Homo sapiens: one gene and its partners. The protein of the gene in region 7 purifies or fractionates together with the protein of the main gene of each other region. This does not show direct contact. Each region holds a gene or a part of one and is shown on either strand. Other genes may lie near its edges.

The links.
Region 1: the proteins of BOLA3 (region 7) and DDAH1 purify together in Homo sapiens (affinity purification with mass spectrometry; one large-scale study listed by BioGRID and IntAct). This does not show direct contact.
Region 2: the proteins of BOLA3 (region 7) and ISCA1 purify together in Homo sapiens (affinity purification with mass spectrometry; one large-scale study listed by BioGRID and IntAct). This does not show direct contact.
Region 3: the proteins of BOLA3 (region 7) and HEBP1 fractionate together in Homo sapiens (co-fractionation; one large-scale study listed by BioGRID). This does not show direct contact.
Region 4: the proteins of BOLA3 (region 7) and GATD3 purify together in Homo sapiens (co-immunoprecipitation; one large-scale study listed by IntAct). This does not show direct contact.
Region 5: the proteins of BOLA3 (region 7) and ACP6 purify together in Homo sapiens (affinity purification with mass spectrometry; one large-scale study listed by BioGRID and IntAct). This does not show direct contact.
Region 6: the proteins of BOLA3 (region 7) and PAK5 purify together in Homo sapiens (co-immunoprecipitation; one large-scale study listed by IntAct). This does not show direct contact.

Annotation. Positions count from the first base shown.
Region 1 is NC_000001.11:85,458,660-85,462,159, forward strand, and holds part of DDAH1 (N(G),N(G)-dimethylarginine dimethylaminohydrolase 1), read right to left. Parts: intron 1-3,500. UniProt on the Homo sapiens protein: Hydrolyzes N(G),N(G)-dimethyl-L-arginine (ADMA) and N(G)-monomethyl-L-arginine (MMA) which act as inhibitors of NOS. Has therefore a role in the regulation of nitric oxide generation.
Region 2 is NC_000009.12:86,269,039-86,272,538, reverse strand, and holds part of ISCA1 (iron-sulfur cluster assembly 1 homolog, mitochondrial precursor), read left to right. Parts: intron 1-426; coding exon 427-532; intron 533-3,500. UniProt on the Homo sapiens protein: Involved in the maturation of mitochondrial 4Fe-4S proteins functioning late in the iron-sulfur cluster assembly pathway. Probably involved in the binding of an intermediate of Fe/S cluster assembly.
Region 3 is NC_000012.12:12,997,466-13,001,492, reverse strand, and holds the start of HEBP1 (heme-binding protein 1), read left to right. Parts: upstream 1-1,227; 5' UTR 1,228-1,378; coding exon 1,379-1,456; intron 1,457-4,027.
Region 4 is NC_000021.9:44,140,183-44,143,682, reverse strand, and holds part of GATD3 (glutamine amidotransferase-like class 1 domain-containing protein 3, mitochondrial isoform 1 precursor), read right to left. Parts: intron 3,434-3,500; coding exon 3,341-3,433; intron 2,742-3,340; coding exon of another isoform or gene 2,609-2,741; exon of another isoform or gene 2,520-2,608; coding exon of another isoform or gene 2,285-2,519; exon of another isoform or gene 2,268-2,284; intron 479-2,267; coding exon 322-478; intron 1-321.
Region 5 is NC_000001.11:147,653,525-147,657,024, reverse strand, and holds part of ACP6 (lysophosphatidic acid phosphatase type 6), read left to right. Parts: intron 1-352; exon of another isoform or gene 353-407; intron 408-1,776; coding exon 1,777-1,864; intron 1,865-2,698; coding exon 2,699-2,831; intron 2,832-3,500. UniProt on the Homo sapiens protein: Hydrolyzes lysophosphatidic acid (LPA) containing a medium length fatty acid chain to the corresponding monoacylglycerol.
Region 6 is NC_000020.11:9,539,474-9,542,076, reverse strand, and holds part of PAK5 (serine/threonine-protein kinase PAK 5), read left to right. Parts: intron 1-2,459; coding exon 2,460-2,603.
Region 7 is NC_000002.12:74,134,900-74,137,912, forward strand, and holds the end of BOLA3 (bolA-like protein 3), read right to left. Parts: intron 760-3,013; coding exon 694-759; coding exon of another isoform or gene 623-693; 3' UTR 501-622; downstream 1-500. UniProt on the Homo sapiens protein: Acts as a mitochondrial iron-sulfur (Fe-S) cluster assembly factor that facilitates (Fe-S) cluster insertion into a subset of mitochondrial proteins. Probably acts together with NFU1.

The DNA of each region.
Region 1 (3,500 bases), on a different chromosome or scaffold from region 7:
AGCCTGAGATGTCTGACAGATTTAATATCTAATATCAGTTTAGGGGAAGTGATGGAAGCTAACTTCAAAGGTCAGGGGAATATTTTGATGGAAGTTCAGAGGATTCAGTTATGTAAGTAAATATTTATGGACAACCTGAAATAAATACTGCACTATGTTCTGTATAAGATATAAATGAAACTTTTTTCTCTCTTATTAAGGTTTTAGTCATTTTCTCTTTAATTATGGTACTCCCTTGATAAGCAGGAAGGAACACTACACATATCCAGATCTCCAGTCAAAAAATGAGGCTTTCTGAAATGGTTACAGATTTTAGTAGCAAAAGCCCATAAAATTAATAACTAGCACTCATTTTTAAAACATGCACCTCCAAATTTATATTGAGAATCATAAGATGCCACAAACAATTTACTTATGACACAAAGGCAGTGGAAGGTAAATCTGTTTGTTGAAAAGTTGTAAGTAGATTTTTCTGTTTTTGTGGTTTATATTAATGGATGGATACCTACCATTATTATAATAAAAACTAATTTTGAAGAAATCTGAGCTTAATAAGAATTCAAATACATGCAAAGGCAATTTTCCAGCATATCTGAATTACAAGGGATCTAGCCCTGCCTTCTTAGTCTTATAATGGTTCTCTAATGAGTCTAAGAATCTCTGCAGAAAGCTCATTTTCAGCTAATAGTATCTAATAGAAGTCACTCCCTAGTCATTTTGTTCCTTATTTTCAAGGCTTTCAAGATCAGCTGCACAGGAAGAGACTACATTATTGGATGCATCCCAGTCTCTGGGACACATCAATTTCCAAACGTTACTGCCAAGGCCATGTAGAAGAGTCAAAACAATAAAAAAAAAATCCTGAAAAGGAGCAGTTGTTCTAACTAGTTGGCGGTGATGATTTATCAAGAACTGTTAATCTGCTGCCATGTGAAGAGCCTCCAGCACATTCACTTTCCATCTTGGTGTCAGAATAATTTCTAATTATGGTTTGGGGCAGCTTTCTCACTTGAAACTAAACAGAAGTTTGAGGAAATTTATGCATTTAAAAATGCAATCATCCACTATGCTGGTAAATAAGATACAATTACGCACAAACTGTGCCTAGGCCATTTAGGGGGTTATATAAATGACTGAATTGTTATTTTTAAACTAAAGTGAAAACAACATATTCTCATTTACGAGAGAAGGGAAGTAAAATAATTCACTTAGTGTTCGAGTTAGATTGCATATCACTAATGTGTAAAATGGGATTTAAGTAGTTATTCTACATAGATTTAATGTTATGTTAGGATTAACCGCAACTGGCAACAAGCACTTCATGCAAAAAATGACCTTCAGATTTTCATAAAAACCTCATTTCTGCAACTTATTACTGTGTATGACTTTGGACAAGTCACTTAACCTCAGTTACCTGAGCCTCAGTTTCCTTATCTTTTGAATAGGGTTAATAATACCACCTTTTAGGATTCACACACATTCAAAAACTTGGCATTTGTTAGCTATAGCTATTAGACATTATCTTGATGTTCACTTGCCTCCAGGATGAACATATTTAGGCTTTTTCCTAACCAGAGAATAAACCCAGAACCAAAATATATAGGTCCTACTAAGTACCCTAATAAAAGGGGAACATCTATCCAAATTATATTCCCCATCCCTTCCATTTATGTCCCCATTCCCCCATTTGATGCCTAATTCCACTTTTGGGATTTATTACCTGGTGCTAAGCATTGACTTCTTCCTGAAGAGGCCCCTACAAATGCAAAAGCTCAAGGAAACAATAATTAAAGCTATTATCACTTTGTAAGAATGCATTTGTGTGGTTTTCTCCAAGACAAAATTACCCCACATACTAACACTTGGTACCTGGGAAAGGATAAAATAGCTGTTAAAAAGGAGCAATCCTAGTCAACAGGGTACATGACAAATAAATTTAAAAAAAAAGTAAAGGGGCAAAAGGGCCTTTTGCAAAACAGGATATATTTTGCAATTTTGCTTAAGTTAAGTTTTGTCAGTTAATCATTCATTAGGTACTAAGAACCTTTGGACAGAAACTCAAGAAATTGGCATTAGTAGTTGCCTCTAAGGAGGAGAACTGGTTAGGCAGGTGCAAGAGTGGGCGTAGAAGGGCAACACCCACTTTCACTGCATATCCTTTTGTACCTTTTGATTTTGGCACTGTAGGCATTAATTATCTACACAAAAGTTTTAATTTAAAAAATTCAATCCTCACACCCTGTTATTTCTCCTACATCATCTTTTAGATTATTTGTTTACATTATTTGACATTTAAACATTGACTTTTGGCCAGGCACAGTGGCTCGTGCCTGTAATCCCAGCCCTTTGGGAGGCTGAAGCAGGAGGATTGTTGAGCCCAGAAGTTCAAGGCTGCAGTGAGCTATGATCATGCCACTGCACTTCAGCCTAGGTGACAGAGTGAGACCCTGTCTCTAAAAACAAACAAACAGAGAAGTTGCATTTTTTCCCTAAAAAGTAAGTTGGAGTCATGTAAAATTTGATAGGCCTCTAACGGCTTATTTTTCTTTAAAGTATTAAACATAAAAAATACTCAAAATCTAAAGATACAACATTATTAGACAATTAACATTATTTACTGACTTTCTGTAAATACAGTTTCCTTCACTAAAACTTAGGCTTCCTGCACACAGGGCCTGTGTTTTATTAATCTTTGAGGCCCCATTCAGGCAAACACTGGGCTTTCACAGGAATACTTTCTTGAATTCCAAGGAAGAAAAGTCATTAAATGAAACACGATGTTTTGATTAAGAAGGAATTTCTCAAGATTTTTATAAAAACAAACAAAACAACAATAACAATAGAAAGAGGCAGGGACAGGGAAAGGGAGAAGAAGAAACAGCTATAAACCACCTACGTTCATAATAGAACTTTTGGGACCTTACTGATTGGGAATGCTTGTGAAACACCAAATATGTCATAAGGAGGGAGAATTAAGGTTAATCTAAAATAATGAGAACACTTGTTCAACAAAATATTTGCTACATGCCTATTGTATACAAGGCCTTGGTGACAAAATGTTGACCAATACAGACATGATCCTAGCCCTGACAGGTTACATAATAGTGGGAGATACAGAACGGTAAACAGGCAATTATCACGTGGTATGATATATATAAAAGGAAGTTTATAGCGTTTTAGGAGCTCATAAAAGGAGAACCAATTCCATGCTTGGAAAAGTGATGTCTAAGTGGGACTAGAGCTTTGGAGTTCTCTAAACCCGAGTTCAAATCCTGGTTTTACAGGTTACACTCTATAACCCTGGCCAATTTATTTAATCTCTCCAGGCCTCAGTTTCACCAACTTTAAAATAGGAATTATGATAGTATTGAGTTCAAAGAGTTGATGTGAGTATTAATGAAATGCACATCATAAATCTGGTATGGTGTATGGCAAGTGGCAAGTACCCAATAAATATTAGCTAATAATAGTGATAACAGTAAGCTGAGAACTTAAGACAG
Region 2 (3,500 bases), on a different chromosome or scaffold from region 7:
TCTGTATTGACTGCAGTCTTTTGCTTTCTGGTATTTGAGACTGTACACAAGTCTGCACTATAATTCAGATCCCATGTAGAGGTAGGATTGCCAGATGGTGGACTATGAACCCTGGTGAATCCTAACCATAAGGAAACATTCAGAGGATATCTCACAGAACAAGGTAGAGCAAAGACATTTTAAATAAAGTCCCAGGCTGGACGGGGTGGCTCCTGCCTTGTAATCCCAATGCTTTGAGAGGCCGAGGTGGAAGCGTTATTTGAGTCCACGAGTTTGAGACCAGTCTGGGCTACATAGTGAGACCCTGTCCTACAAAAAATAAGAGAAAGTCCATTTTGGTACGAGGAGGCTACTGTCACTTTATTAGTATAATTGTTTAATCTGTACTACTTTAAAACCAAGTTTATATTTTCACTTCTTTTTCAGGTAGGTGTAAAAGTTGGTGTCCGAACCAGGGGCTGTAATGGCCTTTCTTATACTCTAGAATATACAAAGACAAAAGGAGATTCTGATGAAGAAGTTATTCAAGATGGTGAGTTTTTAACAAACATTTTTTGGGCACATTGTTTTGCCTAAAATTATTAGCCTTGCACAGCACAAAGTAAAAAATAAGGATAGTAGCAGGAATTATGTAAATAATGCTCACTGTGTGTGTAGGTGTTGTTTGATGGAATTTCATGTATTAACTGATTTATACACAATGCTGAATGTGGGTGGTACCATATTATCCCTGTTTTTCTGATGAAGAAACTGAGGCACAGAGGGGTTAAATAGTTTAAGGTCATAATAAGTGGCCTAGTAAAATTCTTTCCAGAGACTGCTCTTAGTAACTAATTGATAAATTATTATATAAGCTTGTTTTAACTATGAAAGATCATCGTTGTGTCCAAAAAGTGAACCAGCCTTAAACCTCACAGTGAACCAACAGTTTTTGTGTAAGCAGTAGTTTTATATCTGTGTCAAATAAGTACGAGTTGAGCATTCCAATCCAAAAATCTGAAATCTGAAATGCTCCCAAATTCAAAACTTTAAAAGTGGGTGCTGACATGACACTCAGAGGAAATGCTCATTGGAGCTTTTTGGATTTGGGATGCTCAAGCAGTAAGTATAATGCAGATACAGTCATACATCACTTAACATTGGAGATACATTCTGAGAAATGTGACGTTAGACAAATATCCTGGGGTGTACTTAGACAAACCTAGACGGTCTGAGAAATGTGACATTGGACAAATATCCTGGGGTGTACTTACACAAACCTAGATGGTAGAGCCTACCATATGCCTCAGCTAGATAATATAACCTGTTGCTCCTAGGCTACAAACCTGTACTGCACGTGACTGTGCTGAATACTGTGCACAGTTCTGACACAATGGTAAGTATTTGTGTAAACGTACCTAAACAAAGAAAAAGTATAGTGAAATTTCTTTTATTATTATTATTATTATTATACTTTAAGTTTTAGGGTACATGTGCACAATGTGCAGCTTAGTTACATATGTATACATGTGCCATGCTGGTGTGCTGCACCCATTAACTCATCATTTAGCATTAGGTATATCTCCTAATGCTATCCCTCCCCCCTCCCCCCGCCCCACAACAGTCCCCAGAGTGTGATGTTCCCTTCCTGTGTCCATGTGTTCTCATTGTTCAATTCCCATCTATGAGTGAGAACATGTGGTGTTTGGTTTTTTGTCCTTGCGATAGTTTACTGAGAATGATGATTTCCAATTTCATCCATGTCCCTACAAAGGACATGAACTCATCATTTTTTATGGCTGCATAGTATTCCATGGTGTATATGTGCCACATTTTCTTAATCCAGTCTATCACTGTTGGACATTTGGGTTGGTTCCAAGTCTTTGCTATTGTGAATAGTGCCACAGTAAACATACGTGTGCATGTGTCTTTATAGCAGCATGATTTGTAGTCCTTTGGGTATATACCCAGTAATGGGATGGCTGGGTCAAATGGTATTTCTAGTTCTAGATCCCTGAGGAATCGCCACACTGACTTCCACAATGGTTGAACTAGTTTACAGTCCCACCACCAGTGTAAAAGTGTTCCTATTTCTCCACATCCTCTCCAGCACCTGTTGTTTCCTGACTTTTTAATGATTGCCATTCTAACTGGTGTGAGATGGTATCTCATTGTGGTTTTGATTTGCATTTCTCTGATGGCCAGTGATGACGAGCATTTTTTCATGTGTCTTTTGGCTGCATAAATGTCTTCTTTTGAGAAGTGTCTGTTCATGTCCTTTGCCCACTTTTTGATGGGGTTGTTTGTTTTTTTCTTGTAAATTTGTTTGAGTTCATTGTAGATTCTGGATATTAGCCCTTTGTCAGATGAGTAGGTTGTGAAAATTTTCTCCCATTTTGTAGGTTGCCTGTTCACTCTGATGGTAGTTTCTTTTGCTGTGCAGAAGCTCTTTAGTTTAATTAGATCCCATTTGTCAATTTTGGCTTCTGTTGCCATTGCTTTTGGTGTTTTAGACATGAAGTCCTTTCCCATGCCTATGTCCTGAATGGTAATGCCTAGGTTTTCTTCTAGGGTTTTTATGGTTTTAGGTCTAACGTTTAAGTCTTTAATCCATCTTGAATTAATTTTGGTATAAGGTGTAAGGAAGGGATCCACTTTCAGCTTTCTGCATATGGCTAGCCAGTTTTCCCAGCACCATTTATTAAATAGAGAATCCTTTCCCCATTGCTTGTTTTTGTCAGGTTTGTCAAAGATCAGATAGTTGTAGATATGCGGCGTTATTTCTGAGGGCTCTGTTCTGTTCCATTGATCTATATCTCTGTTTTGGTACCAGTACCATGCTGTTTTGGTTACTGTAGCCTTGTAGTATAGTTTGAAGTCAAGTAGCGTGATGCCTCCAGCTTTGTTCTTTTGGCTTAGGATTGACTTGGCGATGCGGGTTTTTTTTTTGGTTCCATATGAACTTTAAAGTAGTTTTTTCCAATTCTGTGAAGAAAGTCATTGGTAGCTTGATGGGGATGGCATTGAATCTATAAATTACCTTGGGCAGTATGGCCATTTTCACGATATTGATTCTTCCTACCCATGAGCATGGAATGTTCTTCCATTTGTTTGTATCCTTTTTTATTTCATTGAGCAGTGGTTTGTAGTTCTCCTTGAAGAGGTCCTTCACGTCCTTTTTAAGTTGGATTCCTAAGTATTTTATTCTCTTTGAAGCAATTGTGAATGGGAGTTCACTCATGATTTGACTCTCTGTTTGTCTGTTATTGGTGTATAAGAATGCTTGTGATTTTTGTGCATTGATTTTGTATCCTGAGACTTTGCTGAAGTTGCTTATCAGCTTAAGAAAATTTTGTAAAAGATCAAATGTGGTCGGGTGTGTTAACACAAGCCTGTTGTCCCAGCTACTCAGGAGACTGAGGCAGGAGGATTCCTTGAGTGTAGGAGTTCAAGAATGTAGTGCACTGGCCAGGCGTGGTGGCTCACCTGTGTAATCCCAGCACTTTGGGAGGCCGAGGTGG
Region 3 (4,027 bases), on a different chromosome or scaffold from region 7:
GCCGTGTGGCGCTGCCCAAGAAGCCGCCCCACCCCCCTCCCCACCCCCGCGGCCGCCACAGGCTCCGGCTTTCGGCCCCGGGGCTTCAACTCGCCGGTTCCCCTCCGCCCGGCCCAGCTTGAGGCCTGCACCGGCCGCTGGGCAGCGCCAGGCTCGGCCTCGGGGCCCCGCCTGTCCCAGATCCCCGGCCGCTGCGTGAAACGCGAGAGCGCTGCCGAGCGGGGACTCCCTGAGGGAGGGACCTCGGACCCCGACGGACGCCCGGGACGCGCGGGCTCTCGGGCGCTCCGGCGGGGCTCGGCCCGCGGCTCCACAGCCCGCTGCACCCGCGCGGCTCGGAGCAATGGAGGATCAGGCAGCGGCAGAAGCTTCCGTTTCCTCCTTTTTAAATGGCTCCAAAATATTTCTTGTCGGTGGTGTGGAGTAGAGATTTATTGGTAAAATACTTGACAGAAAGCAGGCACTCAGCTGAGTAAATGGTGACAAAATTGGTGAGAAGATTTTTGAACAGGAGTGAACGAGAAAAGCCATGCTTAGAAAAGTCACCTGGAAACTGTGATTTAGAGGGATGGTAGGAAAGAGTGGCAGCAGGAAAGTGGTTTGGATGCTCTTTCAATGGTCTAGAAGAGGTCATGGGGCGGGGGTAGAGGGACAGCTACCAAGACAGGGAGCCTGGCCGCCGCTGTACCAGCGGGATCGAGCCTTCGGGTAGAGGACCGGAGAAGCGTGAGCAACCCGGGGCTCGGAGGTTGGAGCCCAGGCACCTGAGAGAGGACGTTCCCCACCACCGCTGCCTAAAGCCACTCCAGGCGAGAATCGCTTTCCAGGGCCCCAGCGGATAGGTTAGACTCAGAATAAGAGAAGGGGTCTGCGGAGGGGGACGGCCTGAGGCCCGCGGCCGGGTTCCCTCCCCAGACACCCGCGGAAAGCCCGAAAGGAGGCGGAACACGGCCCAGCGGCTCGCCACGGCGGGCCCATCCCTTGCTTAGCCGCCTCGCACCCTCGCCTCACCGCACTGCTGCACTGCTGCACTGCTGCCCTGCTGCCCGCCCTTCGCATCACTGACCCGCCCTCTCTCCGCCCCCTCGCCTCGCCGCCCCGCCCTCTCTCTCCGCCCCTTCACCTCGCCGTCCCGCCCCCTTGCCTCACCGCCGGGCTGAATTGCCGCCCCGCCCTCTAGCCACGCCCTCTGGCCCCTGCCTCTAGCCCCGCCTCTCGCCTCGCCGCCTCGCCGTCCCGCCGCCTTGCCGCCCTGCCACCCTGCCGCCCTGCCGCCCTGCCGCCCTGCCGCCCTGCCGCCGGTGGTCGCTGCCCGTGGTGCTCCGTCGCCCCCGCCACCTCACGTCCTCCCGTGCGTCGGGAGCGTCTCGGCTACAACATGTTGGGCATGATCAAGAACTCGCTGTTCGGAAGCGTAGAGACGTGGCCTTGGCAGGTCCTAAGCAAAGGGGACAAGGTAGGCCCGCAGGGCTGCCGAGGACCTGAAGGATTGCTGCCTCCCACCCCCACCCTCGTCGGGGCTGCAGCGGGTGCTGAGGGGCAGGTGGGGCAGGAATGTGCTATCGAAGGTGCGTTCTGGTGTCTGTCGCGAGTGCGGCTCTCCACCGCCCAGCATTTGGACTGGGAAGGAAAGGAGTGAGAGGTCCCCCTGCAGCCGGTGGTGAGAGGAGGGGGGTAAACAGGAGAGACTGATCCAAGGAGAGAATCCCAACTTGGGGAGTTGGGCACTGCCTGTTGAATGCATTCTTTCGTTTAAAATATTCCAAACATTCCGAACAGTTTGATTTGTTGAGAGACACTCGGTTGCAGAAATGAGTGTCGCAAGAAACTCCCAAGTACTAGAGAACTGCGGATAGTAGCCCCCTTTATCCGCGATTTCAGTTACCTGTGGTCAGCTCTTGTCCATAACTATTAAATGGAAAATTCCAGAAATACAGAAGTCCTAAGTTTTAAGTTTCCGGCCATTCTGCGTAGCAGGATGAAATCTTGATTCCTGGGACCGGAATGCCCCTTTGTCCAAGGTCAGCCTCCTATCTCTAGTAGCCGCCCTTAGTCACTTAGTAGCTAGCTTGGTGATCGGATCGACCGTGGCGGTATTGAAGTAACCCTTATTTTACTTAGTAATGGCCCCAAAGTGCAAGCTTAGCAATGCTGGCATATTGTTATAATTGCTGTTATTTTATTATTGTTGTTCATCTCTTACTGTGCCTAATTGATAAAGTTAAACTATATCATAGGTATGTATGTATAGGAAAAAACGTAGTAGATACAGGGTTCAGTTTTGTCCACCGTTTCAGGTATCCACTGGGGGGCTTGGAAGGTATCTACTATAGATAAGGGGGACTACTGTGTAAAAGAACAAGATCTGTGCAGAATAGATATAAATGCGCTACGCAGGGAGCACAGAGGCAGTCAATTCTGCCAGGGGGCTATGATGGGGACCTCAGTGGAGTGTCCTGAGCTGGGGCCTCAGGGATGTGTAGGAGTGCACACAACAGAGAAGAGCATGCACAAAGGCCCAGAGCTGTACCATTGCTTTTGGCCAGTTAGATCCTCTGGAGTTGGGTACCTAGAATACAGAATGAGTGAGAAGAGCATAATTGCTGTCTTCCCCCAAATTTATATCAGTGCTAACATGGGCTAACTGGACTGCACCCCTGAAAACAAGGAGAGTGCTGCTAGATTATAATCTCCTGGTGGACAGGTAGTTTAAACAGTGCAGCTGTATACAGAGCTCCCAATACGATGCCTCATTTGTGAAAGGACTGTATTGCCTGGGGGCCAAGTTCTGATACCTAGTACAATGATCTTCATATCACGAAAGCCCTCAATTAGACTCTAATCTGAACTCTTTGACAACCAAAGACCTTTCACCTGTTCTTATCTCCGTTTCCCCAGCTCTATGTAGAATGAACAGTTTAGCCCTGATCAGAGGTCCCACATTTGAATACCTGCAGCAACCAGGCAGGTAATGGAAATGGATGAAGCTGGCTGTTTTAGGCTATAAGGCATAGTGGGGACTGAGGCAAATCAGAGAGTGAACTCAGGTCCCCATCTCTAAACGGCAGTTCCAGCCACTTGTTGCTATGCAGTGATATATGAAACAGTGTTGCCAAATTCTTAAGGAAAACCATACATCCAGATTCTTAGCGAAATCACCCAATTTAAAAATAATTCGACAAAAACTGTTTTTTGAGTGCTATGTGCCAGGCACTCTTCTAGGCAATGGGATAAAAGATTAAAACCAGCAAAATTCTCTGCCCTCATGGAACTTATGTTTTATTGGCTAATGAACAAATAAAATGTATCATGGATCAGATAGTGATCAGTGCTGTGAAGAAAAGCAAGCAGGGGAGTGAGGAATAGGGAGTATTAGGAGTGAGGCTGTGATTTTGAGTAGGGAAACTGACATAGTTGTGCATAGGCTGGACACAAATGCAATAAGGATGCCAGTTATTAATATCAGTCCTGCTGTGAGCATCCAAAGGACCCACCCAAGCCAACACAGAGAGCTGTCTATCCGCCTCCCTGGGCAATGAAAAAGGCACCTGATAAGGTCTGCAGCATCACTGGCCTCCCCATCAAGTAGTTGCCCTACTCAGAACCACAGCCTTTCTCCTAACAGCCCTGATGAAGGTTCCTGTGATTCTAACACTTTAAGAATCCATGTGTTCTTGCTTTTGTCATGGAATGGGGCTCACTTTGTCTTTTTGGATTAATGATGATGGCCCACACAGGCGGAGAGGGGTCTGGGCTGGTTCGTGGCCTGTGCCCTCAGATTCCTTCCTCACCCATTCCCTGCTCTGCTGTCTTCCTGTGGAGTGGAAGCTGACCCATTCGGCCTGTTTCCCAGGCCAGATGTCAGCCGGCGCCCAGCTACGTTTGCTCAGTGGGAGTCTCTACTGGGAGATAAAAAGGGAGAAACCAGAGTATTTCTCCTCCTTCTCCACCCCATCAGATCCATACTACTAGGAGCTTCTCTGTGGCTTTGGCTTCCGCTACACAGGCCACCATGATTCTAGCTTCT
Region 4 (3,500 bases), on a different chromosome or scaffold from region 7:
TGGCTGCCTGGGTGTTGCTGAGCAGACTAAACAGTCAGGCAAGGGACCTGGATCTGCCAGATCTGCCAACCACGCACCAGAGCTGCGCTTCTGACGTGTCTGTGACCCACCTCACACCAGCTGGGCTGTCACAGCCATCTGCTCTCTGCCCTTAGACACATGGCTGCGGTGCCCACTGGGGGAGGCCCCACAGGGAGAGCAGCAGGTGCAGCTCCCGGTGAAGAGGCCACCCACCAAGACAGCCCGGAGGGAGGGGCGTCCCTATGCACGTCTCAGGGACAAGCACGACAGCGGGCCGGGCCTGGCTACCAGGAAGGATATGACCACTTCCTTCACGCAGTGCTTGGCACCCAGGGCCTTGATGGCCTCTGCGGTCCCGGCATAAGGCCACTTGCCACCTTCCTCCTGCTCGTGGCCCACAGTCACCTCGACGCCTCTGAGCACCTTGGCCGCGAGGACAGGTGCAATGCAGCACAAGCTGAAAGGCGAAAAGAACACGGGTCAGGCAGGCTGCATGGCCTGCAGAACAGAAATTACCCTCGCCATGACCCCAGGCTGCCCTGCCACGGGAGCCCTGCCGACCCTGCCCCCTGTGAGCCTGCGCTGCCAGAAGGCTGTGGCCCATGGGATGTGATGGAGGTGGCACCAGGTGACTCAAGGCTGAGAGTGAGGTGTCCTCAGCCCCACTCCCCGCCAAGCACGCCCTGCAGGCACTCAAGCACCAGGCCAAGGACCCCTGAGGGGAACCCCCAACAGCCATGGGCTAAGCCCCAAGCCCCAGGACACCCCAGACTGGCGAGAGTCCCGGGCTGCCAAAGTCCACTCACAGAGAGGGTAATGATGTGCGGCTGCCCCAGCCCTGAGTTGTGGGGTGGTCTGTGACCCAGCAATAGATAACACAGCTGCACTTCTCATTCACACCAGCCCCCCTTCTACAGGAGGCACAACGGGCCAGGAGCAGCCTCGCCAGCCTCCGACCTGCAGCACAACTCTCAACAAGTGCAGGCTGGTGGACGCACGCCCCTGACCCTGACGCACAGGCCGCAGCAGCCCTGAAACTGAGGGTCCTGCCACACCCACCCCTGGGACCTGCTTCTGCTTCATCAGGAACCCCTCCCTGCCAAGTCAACAGAGGCCCCTGTGTGCCAGGCACTGTGCCCACAGCAGGGCCTTCAGTGACCTGTGTCGTCCAGCGCCTCATGGCCACCCAGGGGCAACAGTGGAAGGAGTACGGCCTCATTAACAGCAGCCCCATCCCCTGGCAACCTGTGGTGTAGCCCACAGCTGTCAGGCCCCACCCTGCCCTCAACACCCCGCACCCTTCATCCCTCCTCCCGCTGTCTACAGTCCTACCCACTCCCGACAGGCCCAGGTGGAAACTGCTACCGTGAGCTGTAACGAAACACTGTTAAAAACACATTTCACAGCCAGGTGCAGTGGCTCATGCCTGTAATCCCAGCACTTTGGGCAGCTGAGGCAGGCAGAACACCTGAGGTCGGGAGTTCGAGACCAGCCTGACTAACATGGCGAAAACTTGTCTCTATTAAAATTACAAAAGTTCGGCCTGGTGGCAGACACCTGTAATCCCAGCTACTTGGGAGGCTGAGGCAGGAGAATTGCTTGACCCCGGGAGGCGGAGGTTGCAGTGAGCCAAGATCACTCCAGCCTGGGCAACAGAGCGATACTCTCAAAACAAACCCGCCCCCAAAACTGCATGTCCTGAAGCAACTTCTGGCTGCCTATGAGATGAAACCCCCCTGCCGCCCTCTGCGCAGGCAGAAAGTCCAGGAAGCAGGTTCTCAGCAGCTCCCGACGCTGCGTGCAGCCGCCCAGCCATCAACTGCCAGCTACAGATGCCACAGTGGCTCCTGGCACAGCCCAGCGCCCACCTCGACTACTGCATTCAAGGAAGGGGTCCCAGCAGTGAGCGGCTGGGCCGCCTAACAGCCCCTGGCTGGCCACGCAGGCCTCTGACACCAGGCTGAGGGGTGGGTGGGGCCAGTGGGAAAGGATTTAGGTTTCCTCAGGAAAAAAGCCTGTGGGTCACCGTGCACGGAAGCCCCATGGCTGGACCGGGGAGCAGACGGGCTTGTGCCCTGCAGTTTTCAGGGGAGCCTCATGGCTGGACCGGGGAGGAGACAGGCTTGCGCCCTGTGCTGTTTCCAGGGGAGCCTCATGGCTGGATTGGGGAGGAGATGGGCTTGCGCCCCACACTGTTTTCAGGGGAGGCATGCTCAGAGGCAGTGGTTCACCTGCCAGGGGCTGTCTTGTTTCATCGAGATTTTTAATCAGTCACAGAAGAAAGGGCCATGGGCTCCTCCCTCTGGGCGCTCATCCAAGGAACACTTCTCTGACAAGGACGGGATCCCGAGGTGGAGACCATGGGCGAAACCTTCACCCCGGCTGTGACACGGCTGCAGCAGGGACCTCCTTCAGGAGCTCTGAGCCTGCACCTCTTCCTGAGGCTCCACTTTAGGGGCCTCCCTGGACAGTGACCAGGCAGGTCCTTAAGTGAGTGACTGTGGATGGGGAGACAGAGGATTCCGATAGATCCTCATCCTTGTTCGGCTGACAGAACTCGGTAGTGAGCGGCCATCGCGAGTGCGCCTCACTGATGTTCACCCACGCAAGTGCGGCTCTCGCCCTGCCAGCACCAGACGCAGCTGAGACCTGGACAGCACAGCGCCGCGTTCCAGGACCACCAAGGAGCAGGTGCCGGGAGGCTCGTGGAAGCATCACACCTGCCGAGGCGGAACCCGGCCTTGCTGGGTCACCCTCACACATCTGAGAGTGACTTCCCGGCAGCAGACGCTGAAGAGCACACACTCCCTGCGGGGCTGCGACCCGCCACGTAAGCCAAGGCGCTTACGTGGATGAAGGAGTGGGCGCCCTACTCGTGCCGCCAACCTCAGGACCCAGGCTTTGTCTGAGCAGGGACAAAGGGGCGTGGTTGGCTGTGGCTCCCCAGGAGGGAGGCCGCTGGGAGTGGATGGCGTCAGGGATGGAGCACGTGCTGCAGTGACTGGCCAGAAGTCAGCGGGGTTGGGGGTACTGTGGCTAAGGGGCTTGGGAGAAGGGGTCTGGTAAAGGATAGGGGTCCTGAGGGACTGCCTAGGGACACCTCTGGGAGCCAAGAGAATTCCAGGCCTCCTCTAGGGAAGTGCACTGTGCCTCTCCTTCCTGTTAAGTCACCAGTGACATCGTGTGAAATCCCCTCAGTTAAAACAAGAAAAGCAGCTGTGAGTTTTCAGGATCAGCGGCAGCTCCTGGCTGAGAACAGAGGCCGCGGGCCCACGCACCCTCCTCCCTCCCTCCCCGAGGCCTGCACGGCTGTACACACCCGATGGGCTTCCCGGCCTGGTGGAACTCCTTCAGGACACGCTCCACTTCTTTATTCACCTTGCAATCTTTCCCGTCCACGGCAAACGTGCTCCTACCGGGAGACAAAAGGCCTCCTCAGACAGCCTCACAACCAGGGTCTATTCCTGGGGGGCTTCCTA
Region 5 (3,500 bases), on a different chromosome or scaffold from region 7:
ACAGATGCTCAAGTCCCTTTTATAAAATGGCATAGCTTTGCATATAACCTATGCCCATCCTCCCATGTACTTCAAATCATCTGTAGATGACATAATACCCAATACAATGTAAATGCTGTGTATTACCCTGTACTATTTTCTAATTTATGTTATTTTTATTGTGTTATTTTGTATTGTTCTTTTTTACTCAAATATTGTTAATCCATGGTTGATTGAATCCATAGATGTAGAATCCAAGGACATGGAGGACCAATTGTATGCAGCAAACTTTGTTCTAAGAACTTCGCATATATTAACTTGTTTAATTCTTGTAGTAACCCTATAAGATAGGTGTCATTATCCCCTTTTACAGATAAGAGAACCAAGACACAGAGAGGCTCAGTGACTTGCCCAGGGACACAAAACTGGTAAATGGTGGAATTAGGATTCAAACTCTGGCAGTCTTGGTTCAGAATCCTACTTTTTCCTTTTATGCTCAACTGTTTATTTGAGGACATGTATATCTGGAGGCGGCATCGGATCATTTGGTTTTTCCTTTTCACAACAAATCTTGCAGAACCCCAGGATTCTTCAGAGGGGTCTGAGGAAGCACAGAAAAGGAGGGGATGGGACATGCAAGTGGACTATGCTTTCGATCTCCACCTTGCAGCCATCAGCACCTCTTCTTTTATTATTATACTTTACATAATAGCCGTAGGTTGGAGGAGGTTCTGTGGCTGATATAGTCCTACCCCTTTGATTTACAGATGAACCCCAGAGAATGGTAGTGACTTCCCAGGGCGACTGCTGGTTAGTTCTGGACTGAAGACTAAACTCATGACTTTCAGTGTGGTTTCTTCTTCTGTCCAGACCAACGATGTGTGTGTGAATTCTGATATTCTAGTAAAGTTATAGGCTATTTTTAAAGCCCTTGGTTCTGACTATCAATAATTTGGGAATAAATACCCCTTTGGGACTTTGATTCAGCTGATCACTCTGTAGATGGACCTCAGTGAATCCCAAATTGCTGCTGGGGAGCTCCTTCTTTTGCCATCAGGCTTGAGCAGTGTGGAAAAAGAACCTACCACACAGAGATGGCACTTGCCATCTCTGACACAGAGCAAAGCATGGGAAGGCGTTAGGACACTTTCTTTGGGCATTGACGGGAGGGGACAATGGTACTGAGGGGGTCTGAATAGCAATGAGCTGCCATGAGATATATGAGAAACATTGTAGTTTCTTTGGTTAGATCTTTGGTTAGACCAGCAATTCATCTAAAAGCCTGGCTTTTTATTTTGGGCAAGGCTATGGGGTCTCTGAGAGGATCTGTGGCCTTGTGTCCACTTTTCTCAGTTTGTTATGTGATAAGTCACCATAGTGGCCTATAGGATCAGGCTTCAGGAAGCAACTTAGTTCTGATAACACTATTATTTATTAGAATGCCCAAATGCTGGTAGTGCTTTACAGCAGGGATTTTTTGGAAGGTGTCAGGGAGTTGCCAGTCTGTTTCAGGTCTATTACCTGCTCTAGTCTATTTGTGGCCCGATAGGAGGGCTTGCGCTAGACAGAACAAGGCTGCTGCCACTAACTTTTTTCATTGCTCAGATTATAGGAGAGCCTCCTTTGGCAGGGCCAGGGCATGTTGAAGGCATTTTCTGTCCTTAAGGAGTAACCTTGATGATCTGCCTCTCAGAGCAGATCTCTGCTCCATCTCTGTAGACAAAGAGAAGGGGGTGGAGATGCTGGGAAGAACAAGCTGAAGCCTCTGCCTGCCTGTGCTTCCTCCCTTTCTTCCAGGACCCATCATCATCCACACTGATGAAGCAGATTCAGAAGTCTTGTATCCCAACTACCAAAGCTGCTGGAGCCTGAGGCAGAGAACCAGGTAACTGCCCCTGGGTTCTTGCTCACCAGTTGGGGACAACCTTTTACAACCTTTGCTGGCAGAACTCTGTCTATACTGAGGGCCTGTCCAGGCTTACCCTACTGGCGAATAATGGATGGGAAGGTTTAAATTACACTTAAGTGTGACATCAGCTGTCTAGGAAGCGAAGAAGTCTTGTTCACAATGACAGACCCATGGTGAAGGCCAGGAATTCTGGGAAGAGCCGCACACTGGGCTAGCGAGATGATACATACAGCCACGAGTGGGCCTTTGCCATTTACAAAGTATGATCCTTCTGACAACCCCGGTCTCTCAGGTGGGGCAAATGAGAAAACCAACAGGTTAAATAAAAGATGATTGAGACTGTCTTTAACCGGCAAATCCAGTTGTACAAGCCCAACAAGACACAGATTTTTCTTCTCTTACCAATATGTTTCTATGTAAGATAGATCGGTTTGGGCTGATGACACTTTTCAGGTATCTCTAGGCTGCACTAAGACTATATGGTATTTATTCCGTAAAGAAAAGAAAATGCTGTTTTCAGACAGACCTGGGCCATGCTTGCATCATTTTTGATGCAATGCAAATGCTAGAGTGAGATTTGGAAAATTTCATCCTGTTATCCTAACCCTGGTACTTGCTAACTTAACGTTATAAGTCATTTGACCTTATAGAGCCTTAGTTTATTCATCTATAAAATTGGGATAATACCAGCTAACCCCATTGGGTTGTGGGGATTAAATGATATCCCAAATGATAACCCAAGTGTGAAGCACACTTTGTAAACTGTTAATCACTATAGAATATAAGGCTTTACTTTTTATTTTTTGTCAGAGGCCGGAGGCAGACTGCCTCTTTACAGCCAGGAATCTCAGAGGATTTGAAAAAGGTGAAGGACAGGATGGGCATTGACAGTAGTGATAAAGTGGACTTCTTCATCCTCCTGGACAACGTGGCTGCCGAGCAGGTGAGTCCTGGGGTTGGGGAGCCTGGGATAATAGCCTTGGTGGGCTGGCTCCGGAGTTAGAACCGGGTGGAGAGAAGTGGGTGGAGGCCTCCTGGTTTGAAGGCAACTGTGATAAGACCTACAGATAGAATGGGTGTGGGGACTGAGGGATAGGGAGCAATCGAGGAAGACTCCTTACCCAGGTAGGAACACAGACACTGAACTCTAGACCAGAGCTTCTTGAGGCATGTTCCCCAGAACACCCAATATGCAGTTTGTGTTTGGGCAGGCAGGGGCAATGGGTAGGGAGGGATGAGTAGGGTCTAAAAATTTTGGAATCCTTATTTATTGCATCACTTCTTGAGAGTACTATATGTACATCAGCATATTAAAAAAATCTGAGATGCCCTTCATAAAGAAAGCTGGTTAATCTTTAAATCTGTTTTCCTTAAGCTTATTTAGCCATAGGATCTTTTTTTCTGTAATAAATACATAAAGAAGACTAACAATGGGAAAGGTTTCTCTAGATTTAAAAGTTGGACATCCAAAGTTATATAGGATCCTCCCCACTCTTGTGAAAATAAAATGACTGTGTACCCTAAAGGCAGAAATGCACCTTGCTTTTATGTGTAAAATAGGTTTAAGGTTAGAAGGCAAGAGTTCATATCATGTATTTGTATGGCGTATTTT
Region 6 (2,603 bases), on a different chromosome or scaffold from region 7:
AAAGCTGGTTGTATGAGTCTGTTTTTACACTACTATAAAGAAATACCCAAGACTGAGTAATTTACAAATAAAGAAGGTTTAATTAACTCACAGTTCCACATGCCTGGAGAGGCCTCAGGATACTTACAATCATGGCAGAAGGCGAAGGGGAAGCAAGGCATGTCTTACATGGTGGCAGGAGAGAGAGAGCGCACAGGGGAAATGCCAGACACTTATAAAACTATCAGCTCTCATGATAATTCCCTCACTATCTTGAGAATAACATGGGGTAAACTGCCCCCATGACCCAATTACCTTCCACCAAGTCCCTCCCTTGACATGTGAGGATTACAATATGAGGTGAGATTTGAGTGGGCACAGAGAGCCAAACCCTATCACTGATTTAAGCTGAAGAGTGAAGGAAGCCCTTTCTAGGGAGGGATCAAACGAGCTGGGACCTGAATAGGAAGAAGGTACCAGCCATGCAAAGATCTTGGAGAAAAAGGTCCCAGGCACGGGGAGCATCAAGTGGAAAGGCCTTAAGCCAAGAAAGAAGGCTTACATTGCTGGAGTAAAGTCAGAAAGGGGAAAAAGGTAGGTCTTGTCAGAGAGATGGGCAGGAGCTAGATTGTACAGGGCAATGAAGGTCATGGTTAATATAATGCATGTAAGAGACCGAGTGGGGTCTTTTCTGTTTTCCAAGGATTGCCAATTAGGACGAGCTCAGAAAATAATGATGCTTCATCCAAGAATCACCACTGTAGGAGCTGCCAGATTTCCAAAGGACTTGCTCAGAGGATCATTTCTGCAGGACTACTACTATAAACACTGGCCCCATACACACCTCTCTTCCTATCTTATGACAATAAAAGAGAGTGTGTGGCTGCCTTTTGGAGGAGAATTATTTGTAATGGTAATATCTCCTCCTTCCTCACCCCTAAATCTTAGGGAACAGCCCCAGTAGCATCACTCATATAGGTTGTGTGGACCTACAAAAACATAAACAAAAAAAGAGAGATTGAAATTTTTACTGGATTGGACTAAGTCTAAATAATGAAAAGTGGCTGGGTGTGGTGGCTCACGCCTGTAATCCCAGCACTCTGGAAGGCCGAGGTGGGCGGATCACGAGGTCAGGAGATGGAGACCATCCTGGCTAACACGGTGAAACCCCATCTCCACTAAAAATACAAAAAATTAGCCAAGCATGGTGGCGGGTGCCTGTAGTCCCAGCTACTCAGGAGGCTGAGGCAGGAGAATGGCGTGAACCTGGGAGGCAGAGCTTGCAGTGAGCCCAGATCGCACCACTGCACTCCAGCCTAGGTGACACAGCGAGACTACGTCTCCAAAAAAAAAAAAAAAAGTGACTAAAAATGTATCATATGAAAGTAGTCTCACACCCAGTGAGTGCCAATGTTCTTCAAAACCATGTACAAGAACAACTTTAATCCTAATGGTTTCAAAAAAACTGGAAACCAGTCCGAGGTTGTTTCCCAAATGGATAATGTGTGGTATAATTGGACAGTGAATACTACACAGTAATTTAAAAGATATAACTTTTGCCACACGTCGGAGATGAATCTCACAGATACAACACTGAGTGAAAGAAGCCAGATAGAGAAGAAATCAAATATATGACTCCATTTTGGTAAAGTACAAAAGTAAGCAAAACTAAGTTATGCTATAAATTAAAATAGTGGTGACCTTTTGCAGGGAGATAGGGGTTGGCAGGAAGGAAACCTAAAAGTAGCTTCCTAGAGTGGTAGAAAAGTTCTATATCTTGATAGGAGTGGAAAGTAAATAGGGGTAAATGTATGTAAAAATCCATTGAGCCACACTCTTAGTATTTGTGCAGCGGAACCTGGGCATGCTGGCACATGCTTGTACTCCCAGCTACTCAGGAGGCTGAGGTGGGAGGATCATTTGAGCACAGGAGTTTGAGCCTGGGCAACATAGTGAGACCTCATCTCTAAATATATACATAAAGTAAGATATACCTTTAAAAGGAAAATTACAAGACCTTCAAAGAAAAAAATGAGATGTGTTCGATATCCTTACAGAAGCTTGTTTCTCTTAAAGAAAGGGGTTCCACAGAGCCTGTGTGGTTGCAGTTGTTAGAAAAATAAAACGGCTCCCTGTTTATACTATGCTTCATCAAGCACGTGTGACCAGCACCTGCACATACTAAATATTTTGTAATAGCTGCTCTTATCACTGTGATTGCCACTGTTATTTTATGTAGTAAATAAGTTTTCATTCTTAGTTGAGCTGTCATTTACACCTATTATTTCACACTTGAAAAAGGTAAGGAAAACACGAAATGTTAACAAAGACAAGACATGCTTTTGCTTTCACAACATCTTTCTCCTTAAGGTAACTTTCTGGAATTTGAAGTTGTTGATAGGATGAATGGGGAAAACATTTTGGGGACTGGGTTAGGTGTCTGTGTTAGTCCTCAGATTGGTATCTGTGTGTTTTCACAGGTTTCTTCAGTGCTCCGGGGATTCCTAGACTTGATGTTGGTGAGGGAGCCCTCTCAGAGAGCAACAGCCCAGGAACTCCTCGGACATCCATTCTTAAAACTAGCAGGTCCACCGTCTTGCATCGTCCCCCTCATGAGACAATAC
Region 7 (3,013 bases):
GCTCCTCGGTGTGACTTGCTCCCAAGTTCAGGGCAGGTCCATCTGATTGGCTGAGTCTGGAATATCTGCCTGTGCCTCAGCTGTGAGGGAGGCAGGGAAAGTAAGCCTTTTCAGCTTCTGTCGTGGGAGGTGGGCTCTGCCTCCTACCAAGAATCAAAGGGTGGAGGATCTTCAAACACAGGAAAAGAACCCGGATCCTGGCACCCCCAAATTTTCAGAGTCCATTTCAGAGCATAAGAAATTGAGGGTCCAAGATCATTCATGTAAGAAGTTTAGAGGGGGAAGAAAAGAATGATAAACGAAAAGAACAGCAATAGTAAAGGATCTTTTCTTTGTTTCAGTAAGATGAAGAGGCCTGAGCAGTTTCGTGGAGGGGAAGAAACAGGAAAACCTCTTCAAAAGACAAAAAGCTGGCACTGCATTCTCTCTCTGTAGCAGGACAGAACTGTCTAAAGACAAGACCCCTTTGGCCAAAATAAAGGAACCTGAAACATTACTAATGACCCTTCAAAAGCTTCAGTTGTTTGTTTCCTTTAATTAACATCTAAATAGATTATACATCTTCTATAATTATAATATGGAAATGTATATGAGCAAAATATATAAATTTTTTGGTGACTGCTTAGGGAAGAATGATGTCAGTGAAGTTCATCCAAGGTCTTAAGCAGCAGCATCTATGCAGCCAGGGCGTGGTCAGCGTTTGGGGACAGAGGTAAATATCCGCAATCCATGCATCTCTTTGATTTCTTCTTTTAGTGCCTAAGTAAGAAAACAGCATCATCAGTTTTTGTGTATTTGACGTTGATTACAGTAATTCTCTGAGAGTATTTTTATACAGCTCTGCATCTGAAGGAGACTTTGTATGTGCTTTGTTTAAGCAATTTTTCCTTTTTTTGAAAAACAATTTTTTTTAAATCAATAATATCTAACATGATTTAAAGATTCAAAGGTACAAAAAGGCATTCAGGGAAGTCTCCCTCCTATACCTGTCCATCTCCCCAGTTTCCACCCTTGTTCCCAAAAGAACTGTTGTTAGTTTCTTGTGTATCTTTTTTTTTTTTTTTTTTTAAGTCATGGTCTCGCTCTAGCGCCGAAGTTGGAGTGCAGTGGCGCGATATCGGCTTACTGCAAACTCCACCTCCTGGGCTCAAACAATCTTCCTGCTTCAGCCTCCCTAGTAGCTGGGACTACAGGCACATGCCACCATGCCTGGCTAATTTTTTTATTTTTTGTAGAGGCAGGGTCTCACTATATTGCCTAGGCTGGTCTTGAACTCCTGGACTGGAGCAATCTGCCTGTCTTGGCTTCCCAAAGTGCCGGAATTACAAGCGTGAGCCACTGCACCTGGCCAGTTTCTTGTGTATCTTTACAGGGACTTAAAAATGCATATTCACCAGGCATATTCAAGCTAATATATTTCACCCCATGACCTTTTAAAACGCAAATGGTTAAAATTTCAAACACATTACACCAAGCTTGTCCAACCCACGGCCCATGACAGCTTTGAATGTGGCCTAATATAAATTCGTAAACTTTCATAAAACATTTTGAGATTTTTTTTGAAATTTTTTTTAAAGCTCATCAGCTATCATTAGTGTTAGTATATTTTATGTGTGGCCCAAGAGAATTCTTCTTCCATTGTGGCCCAAGGAAGCCAAAGGACTGGACACCCCTGCTCTACACTTTGCTCTTCCCCCAAACATCTATCTTGGAGATCTTTCTATGTTAGGCATATATGGGTGTCCTGATTCTTTTTTGCATCAGCATAGTATTCCATTATATGAATGCATTATAACTTTTCAACCTGTCCCCTAGCGAACTTTTAGGCTGTTTCCTGTGTTTTGTTATTTCGAGCATCAAGCATTCTTTAAAATGAGCAGTTCTTTAAAATCATACCAATTAGCACAAATTCCCCAATGGTCAGAGCAGGAAATAAAGTTTCAAAGGAATTATGGGACTTGTTTTAAGGCTACAAATGGTGTCAGAGCCCAAATCTGAAGGAACTACCAGAGTCAAATAGATATTTGGCCCCTGTAGTGCTGGGAGAAAGTGAGGTTACAGAATCAGAGTGGGGCTTGGACCGCTCAAGTTTATAATCAGTACAGAGGAAGAAATAAGGTCCTTTTATACTAGGCCAAAATCTGATAATCATACTAGAGTGGACATTTTTCTTTTCTAGTCTCTTTAGTGATCTCCTTCTCTTGGGGAATAATTCCTTTTCCACTCTATTGTATAATTCTGGTGGAACCACCAATTGGTCTGATATTGAGGTCATTATGTGCCACTGGCCCAGCCTATGATTGGACCGAGGTGGCACATGACCCAAATTGGGCCACTTAGAATCTCCCTTGGGATTTCTGAGAGTGGAGCCTTGTTTCTTGGGCCAACATGCTATGAAATTAATTGGAGGTGGCCATGGACTGTGTTTCCCACCAAGGAGAGAAAGCCCATCTTTAGCAGGAGAAAAGGAGACCAACACAGGGAAAGAAGCTGAAAGCTCAGAGAGAGAGAGGAATCTAGATATGCCAGAAACCAGATAATTTTGTTACATGGGCCAATTAATTCCCTTTGTTTGCTTATGCTAATTTTAATTTGGTCTCTGTCTCTTACAATATAAAGAATCCTAATATATGTGGTCAGGTTTATAGATCCTTAGACACAATCTAGTCCCATCCCCTTATTTAATTAAAAAAAAAAAATAGAGTCTACTCCTTGTCCAAAGTCAGCAAACAAGCGAGTAATGGAATCAGGATATGAACCCAGGTATCCTGAGGTCCTGGCCATACCTGGTTTCCATCATGTTCCTGACTTGCCCTGATCCGGGAGCTCCTGTTGTGTTGGGGGACAATGAGCTGCCCCACTTGGCCTACACTGCACACCCTCCAGCTCCACAATCAAGTGCAGGGCCCTCAACTCTGCGGACAGGCAGAAATGTCCCTGGAAAAAGCCTCATATAATCACTGGGCGAAGGTCCCTGGGCCACTTGCTCTCTGCAGGCGTGGAATGCTCCCTA